Linked DNA regions of Homo sapiens. The protein of the gene in region 2 purifies or fractionates together with the protein of the main gene of each other region. This does not show direct contact. Each region holds a gene or a part of one and is shown on either strand. Other genes may lie near its edges.

The links.
Region 1: the proteins of NFASC (region 2) and TBC1D10B fractionate together in Homo sapiens (co-fractionation; one large-scale study listed by BioGRID). This does not show direct contact.

The regions. Positions count from the first base shown.
Region 1 is NC_000016.10:30,360,392-30,364,041, reverse strand, and holds part of TBC1D10B (TBC1 domain family member 10B), read left to right. Parts: intron 1-3,650. UniProt on the Homo sapiens protein: Acts as a GTPase-activating protein for RAB3A, RAB22A, RAB27A, and RAB35. Does not act on RAB2A and RAB6A.
Region 2 is NC_000001.11:204,835,056-204,838,705, forward strand, and holds part of NFASC (neurofascin isoform 1 precursor), read left to right. Parts: intron 1-3,650. UniProt on the Homo sapiens protein: Cell adhesion, ankyrin-binding protein which may be involved in neurite extension, axonal guidance, synaptogenesis, myelination and neuron-glial cell interactions.

The DNA.
Region 1 (3,650 bases), on a different chromosome or scaffold from region 2:
GGATTCAGGTGATTCTCCTGCCTCAGTCTCCCAAGTAGCTGGCATTACAGGTGCGCGCCACCACACCCGGCTAATTTTTGTATTTTTAGTAGAGACGGGGGTTTCACCATGTTAGCCAGGCTGGTCTCGAACTCCTGACCTTAGGTGATTCACCTGCCTTGGCCTCCCAAAGTGCTAGCGTTATAGGCGTGAGCCAACACGGTCAGCCGGACAATTTTTTAAATCAATAATTCATCCTTTAGCAAATATTTATTGAGCATCTGCTATCTACCAGGCACTGTCTAGTCACAAATGATTGCAGTGAACAAAAAACCAAAAACTCCTCTCATGGTGTTTATATTTTAGTGGGGACAAACAATAAATCAGGGAAAGGAAAGTATATTGTATGTGAAATGATGGTAAGCATTAAGGAGGAGGTTATTTTTATTTTTACTTTTATTTGTTTTTTGATAGAGATGGGTTTTCATCATGTTGCCCCGGCTGGTCTTGAACTCCTGGGCTCAAGCGATCCGCCTGCCTTAGCCTCCTTAAGTGCTGGGATTACAGGCGTGAGCCACTGTGCCTGGGCCTAAAGAGGAGTTTAAAGCAAGAGGGAAATAGAGAATGTGAGTGGGGATGGGGTTACAAATGACTTGATCCTGCTTATGTTTTAAAAGGGTCATTCTGGCTACCATGCTGAGAACAGACTATAGGGAGACAAGGACAGAAACGGACCAGTTAGGAGACTTCCTGTAATCCAGGAGAGGGTGAGAGCTAGACCAGCATGGTAGCAGCGGGAGTATGGGGAGAAGTGGTTGGATTCTGGATATATTTTGAAGGTCGAGTCAAAGGGATTTGCCAATGGATTAGACATGCAGTGTGAGAGGAGAGAGGGGAGTAGGGTTTTTGGCCTGAGAAATGAGAAGAATGGAGTTGCTGTTTACTAATACAGATGGGGTAAAGGTAGCTGTGGGGGGCATATCAGGAGCTCAGTTTTGGAACGTTTATTTTTTATTTTTGTTTTTTGAGACGGAGTCTCGCTCTGTCGCCCAGGCTGGAATGCAGTGGCGCCACCTCGGGTCACTGCAACCTCCACCTCCCAGGTTCAAGCAATTCTCCTGCCTCAGCCTCCTGAGTAGCTGGAATTACAGGCACCCGCCACCATGCCTAGCTAAGTTTTGTATTTTTATTAGAGACGGGGTTTTGCCATGTTGGCCAGGCTGGTCTCGAACTCCTGACCTCAAGTGATCTGCTCACCTCGGCCTCCAAAGTGCTGGGATTACAGGTGTGAGTCTCCATGCCCGGCAGGGAACATTAAGTTTAAAATGCTTATTGGACCTCTAGATAGAGATGTAAGTTCAGTGTACAGTATACACAAACCTGGATTTCAGGGCAGATGTTTAAACTGGAGATAAATTGGAAATTAAGAGTCGTCAACTTATAGAGGGACTAAATCTTACCCACGAGACTGGATGAAGTCACAAAGGCAACAAGTGTAGATACAAAAGGAATTGATGCGAAATGTCCAACAATTGAGCCCTGCAGCTCCAATAGTTTGAGAATGGGAAGATGAGAAAGAGCCGGTAAAGGAGACTGGAATGAGAAGCTAGAGGTAGGAGGAGGACCAGGAGCATGTGATTGGGAGCAAAATGTAGTGGGGTTTCAAGCATCAGCTGTGTGAAATGCTGCTGAAGGGTCCAATAAAGTCCAGCCTGAAAATTGACCTCTGGATTGAACACTGGAGAAGTCATTAGTGACCATGTTAAAAACAGTTTTGTGGCTGGGTGCGGTGGCTCACACCTGTAATCCCAGCACTTTGGGAGGCCAAGGCGGGCAGATCATCTGAGGTCAGGAGTTCAAGACCAGCCTGGCCAACATGGTGAAACCCCGTCTCTACTAAAAATATTTTTAAAAGGCCAGGCGTGGTGGCCCACGCCTGTAATCCCAGCACATTGGGAGGCCGAGGCGGGCAGATCATGAGGTCAGGAGTTCGAGACCATCCTGGCTAACACGGTGAAACTCCCGTCTCTACTAAAAAAATACAAAAAATTAGCCAGGCATGGTGGCGGGCGCCTGTAGTTGCAGCTACTCGGGAGGCTGAGGCAGGAGAATGGTGTGAACCCGGGAGGCAGAGCTTGCAGTGAGCCGAGATCGCGCCACTGCACTCCAGCCTGGGCGACAGAGGAGATTCTGTCTCAAAAAAAAAAAAATTAGCTTGGTGTGGTGGCAGGTGCCTGTAATCCCAGTTACTCGGGAGGCTGAGGCAGAGGTTTCAGTGAGCCGAGATCACGCCATTGCACTCCAGCCTGGGCAACAAGAGCGAAACTCTGTCTCAAAGGAAAAAAAAAACAGTTTTGTGGCTGGGCGCGGTGGCTCACGCCTGTAATCCCAGCACTTTGGGAGGCTGAGGCAGGCGGATCACCTGAGGTCAGGAGTTTGAGACCAGCCTGACCAATATGGAGAAACCCCGTCTCTACTAAAAATACAAAATTAGCCGGGCATTTTATAGGGAGGCTGAGGCAGGAGAATTGCGTGAACCTGGGAGACAGAGTTTGCCGTGAGCTGGGATCGCACCATTGCACTGCAGCCTGGGCAACGAGAGTGAAACTGTCTCGAAACAAACAAAAACAGTTTTGTGTGGAGCAGTGGGTGAAACCCTAACTGGAGAATGGGAGAAAAGAAATTGAAGACAGTGAGTCTATAGGTAAGGAAAGAAACAGTGTGGTATTTGGAGGGAAGAGAGGGGTAAAGAGACTTTTTTTTGTTTGTTTTGAGACAGAGCTTGACTGTCGCCCAGGCTGGAGTGCAGTGGTGTGATCTTGGCTCACTGCAACCTCTGCCTCCCAGATTCCCAGATTCAAGTGATTCTCCCACCTCAGCCTCCCAAGTACCTGGGATCACAGGTGCCCGCCACCACACCTGGCTAATTTTTGTATTTTTGGTAGAGACGGGGTTTTGCCATGTTGGCCAGGCTGGTCTCGAACTCCTGACCTCAGGTGATCCACCCACCTTGGCCTCCCAAAGTGCTAGGATTACAGGCGCGAGCTACTGCGCCTGGTGAAGAGACTTTTTTTTTTTTTAAACTCAAATAACAGCATGTGGGTATGCTTGTGGGAACGGTGGAGAGAGAAATTGATAGTGCAGGAGCAAGGGGAGGGTTGTTGGAGTGGTGGCCTGTACACGCGAGAGGGGATGGGATCCTGGGCCCAAGTGGAAAGGAAGTGCTTGCCAGGATCACAGACTCTTCACCCATAGCAACAGGGAGAAGGCAGGGACACGGAAGCAGGCAGGTGGGTGATGGGTGTGGGTGCTTGTGGAAGTTACATATTTATTTTAATATGCATTAGGTAAAATAACCATATCAAACCTGTCATTTCGTGGATGCTTTTGCAAAGTGGAGAAAAAATGTCAACTAAATAGTAGGGTGGTATGCAGATAAAATACAAATGAAGATCACACTTGAATGCCTGGAGTTTTGGGAAAAGCTATTCTGGGAAGTGGTCAGGAGGAGGATGTGTGAGACTGGAGGCAGGGAGAGGATCTGGGAGGTCATTTTTTATGGGCAAGAAATGGAGGTCTGAGCTGCGAATGGCTGTGGAGGTGGAGAGGAGCAGGCAGGAATGGAATTCAGGGTGCAGCGCTGCTTAGGCTTGGAGTAAGGGGCTCTTTTC
Region 2 (3,650 bases):
CCCTGTCTTCTGCCTTACAGGTGGTAAGAGATATGTGTCCAAATATAAGTAATATTTGCTAATTCCAGAATGTAAGTTCTAGAAAGCTGATGGAAGATCACATTGGGCTTGGGTGATCTGGAAAAGCCTCTTGCAAGAGGAAGTACTTGAGGTGGGTCTTTTTTTTTTTTTTTTTTTTTTTTTGAGATGGAGTCTTGCTCTGTCACCCAGGCTGGAGTGCAGTGGCACGATCTTGACTCACTGCAACCTTGCAACCTCCACCTCCCAGGTCAAGCAATTCTCCTGCCTCAGCCTCCCAAGTAGCTGAGACTACAGGCATCCACCACCACACCCCGCTAATTTTTGTATTTTTTGTAGAGATGGGGGTTTCACCATGTTGGCCAGGCTGGTCTTGAACTCCTGACCTCAAGTGATCCACCCACCTTAGCCTCCCAAAGTGTTGGGATTACAGGCGTGAGCCACTGCGCCCGGCTGGTGGGTCTTGAGATATCAAGACTTGAAGACTTTCTCCAGGACTACTGGAGAAAAATCATGTGCAAAAGCAGGACTATGTAGAGGATCTTTGATTCATGAAGGTAAATGGCATGGTTTGGGTGGTGGGTGCATGTAATTCAGTAGTGAGGGGTGTGTCTGGAGCAGTATATGGAGACAAAAATCATAGAGAACCCTGAGTGCTAGTCTTTACTCTTCTAACCTCGTTGCACTGCTGTCTCCCTGATTTGCTTCTCTGAGCACGTACGATGCCCAGCTCTGGGAAAGGCCTTCTAGGATGGGAGACTTCTGGCCTCCATGCTGAGCTAGCTTTCCTGGATCCAGTTTGGGCCAACTGGAGTGGATTGATCAGATGCTAAGTTTTGTTCTCAGATCTTGTGATTTTCTGGGATGAGAGTGAATGGCTGGCAGAGCAATTCCAAGAACTTTTCCCAGTGATGAAAATTCCCTTTTTCTTTACTGATGCTGGCCAATTTGCTTTGGCAGTAGCATTTTAAACAACCATTTGGTGAAAGCTCCAATTTCAGGGTCAGAGAATTTCATCACTCTTTTCTTTATATTACTAAGAATTCTCTGAGTTGTGTATTGGGATATGTGTGTGCATGTATGTCTGTGTGTGCGTGTGTGTGTGTGTGGTGCCTATGTTAGTAGAATTATTCCAACTAAGTCTGGTTCTAGTTTTATCTTTATTTGCAGGGTAAAAGTCATTAAATATTTCTAGGCCTTTTTTGTTGTTCAAAGGTGGAAGAATCTCCCCTATATCTTACTGTGTGTTGACCATAAGCCAAATTATTTGAGAATAACAGGATGTTAATTATGAGGAGGTATTATAGCTATCTATCATTTTGACAGAAGGTGTAATATTGAGGTAAAATTTTAAGTCTGTCTCCCTGCCACCTAATTCTTGGAACATCTTGACTCGTGAGACCAGCCAGAGTTTTATTTGGGGGCACCACCAATGTTTATGCTTCTTGTTACTTTTCCTAGTCTGTCTGGGCTTGTGTGTAATTAGTAAATGAAGTTAGTACATTGCTGTCAGGTGTTGGCTGACCTATATAAGATAAATTTATATGCAAGACATTGTTGTCACTGCCATTGTTATAATACCTATTGTGTGGTATTTTTCCACATGTTGGAGGTGAATGTCTTTATGGAGGAAAATGCCTCCAAGGCCATAGATGATATTTCTATGCTGACGTAGGTCAGGGCAGAAACTGGATATCTTTCCGATTATCATCACACACTGAGTGGAATTGAAGCCTTTGTCATCCACATTGGGAGCTAAACCAGGATTCTGTGGCTGGCCTCAGCCCTGGGATATGCCCTCGTTTTGTTTTTGTAAGATATTCATTGCATCTGCAGTTATTATTTGAAGACCCTGCTATGTGCATTGCACTCTTCTAGGTGGAAACTTGTTCTGAGAGAAACCTAAACTCAAAAATGTTAGAAATGTTTTAGTTCAAGATAGTTATTTTACTAATCAAGAAATGACTCAGAAGTGTGGCATGACTGACTTGTGACTGCATGGCTGGTTGCTGGCAAAAGCTAGTTCTGGCAAAACCCACATAGGAACCTGGTAATGATACAAGATGATTGATAGGTAATTAAGTTTCTAAAGCATGATCTAAACTAGAAGTGCTTTGGGATGTCAGACAACAGAGGAAATCAGTGTAGATTAAAGTCTTTGGGGAAGGTTCTGAAGAGAAGTGGGGGTTGGCTTGGGCCTCTAGAGATGGGTAGGACCTGAACAGTCAAAGATAAGAAAATGGCATTTCTGGTGGGGAAAGGAGTGCCCACTCAAAGGGCTAGAAGAGGGAAACAGCTAGTGTGGTCAGGCATGGTGAATTGGCCAGGCTGCAGCAGTGGAAGAAGCGGTCTGGGGCCAGACTGTAGCAAACCTTGGCTTGCTGAGGAGTGAATTTTTTTGGCATTGGTGAGGAGTATTTGAAGCTTCATAGCTGAACACTCTCTTGTTCTGAAGACAACAAGATTGTGGTGTTAGAAGAAGTGGGTGGGAAGTCCCTTCCCAGGCACCTGGTGGTTTCTGAGGGGATAGTTCCTTCTGAAGGATGTTTGGGGCAGACGGGAGTGCTGAAATACACTGGGAAGGAGCTTGTCGCTGTCCAGAGTGCTGACCTGACCTGAGATATTTTTCTCTTCAGTGATGCTGCACTGGAAAGTAACGCCGGGGAATGCTTACAACCAGCCAAGGGGATCTCGAGAATGATTCTGCCTAGGACTAGGCAGCATGTGGGCTTTTTGTCAGTAAAATAGTTACAGTATCTGACTTTATGGTCCTTGTGATGAAAGCAAAAGTGTGGAAAGACTGTGTGTCCACGTATGCAGGCTAAGATGGCCCACTTTGTAGCCTTGTAAGTTTTGCCTTAGAACTTTTGGGTTTACATGAGAATTCCAGCACACTGCTTCTTTCATTATGAAAATGCACACCCTCTATTCAGCATCCCACAGAACACCTAAAGCCTCCCCAACAAACCAGGGGAGAGCAGCAGAACTTCCCAGAACACCGTACTCATTACTTCAAATGAAACATCTAAATGCTTTATATTAGTGCTGTCCAATAGAACTTTCTTTGATGATGGAAATGTTCTGTATCTGCACAGTCTAACATAATTAAGCCACCAATTACATGAGCACTTGAAATGTGGCTAATATGACTGAAGAATTGAATTTTGAATTACATTAAATTTATTTATGTAATTTATATTAGACTGCACAGCTCTATAGAGTCAGAATCTTTGACCTTTGCCACTTACCTCTCCTTATTGATCCTCATACCTAAGCCTCTCTGACTTAGAGTAAAGTGGACTTTTGAGTGGGGGTAAGTTTGACCAATTGTTGGAGAAAGCCCCATGCTGAATCCAAACTGAAGTCTGTGTCTGGCTGTGAGTTTTGCCCTGACTTTCTTGTTTTCATAATGAGAAAAACCATCCATGATGCCCTGCAAGTTTTCCATTCAAAAGCCGAGGGAAGGCTCCTTGGATTCTGTCTGGGGTCTCAGGGACCTGATCTAAGACTTTTCGGAGCCTGGAACGGGAAAGCGATGTAGTGTTTATGGCCCTGAAAAGCTGGCTGTGGGGTGAGGTGGGGTGGGGTACAAATAATGTGCTGTGGTGTCAGATGTTTGCAGGCATCTCAGC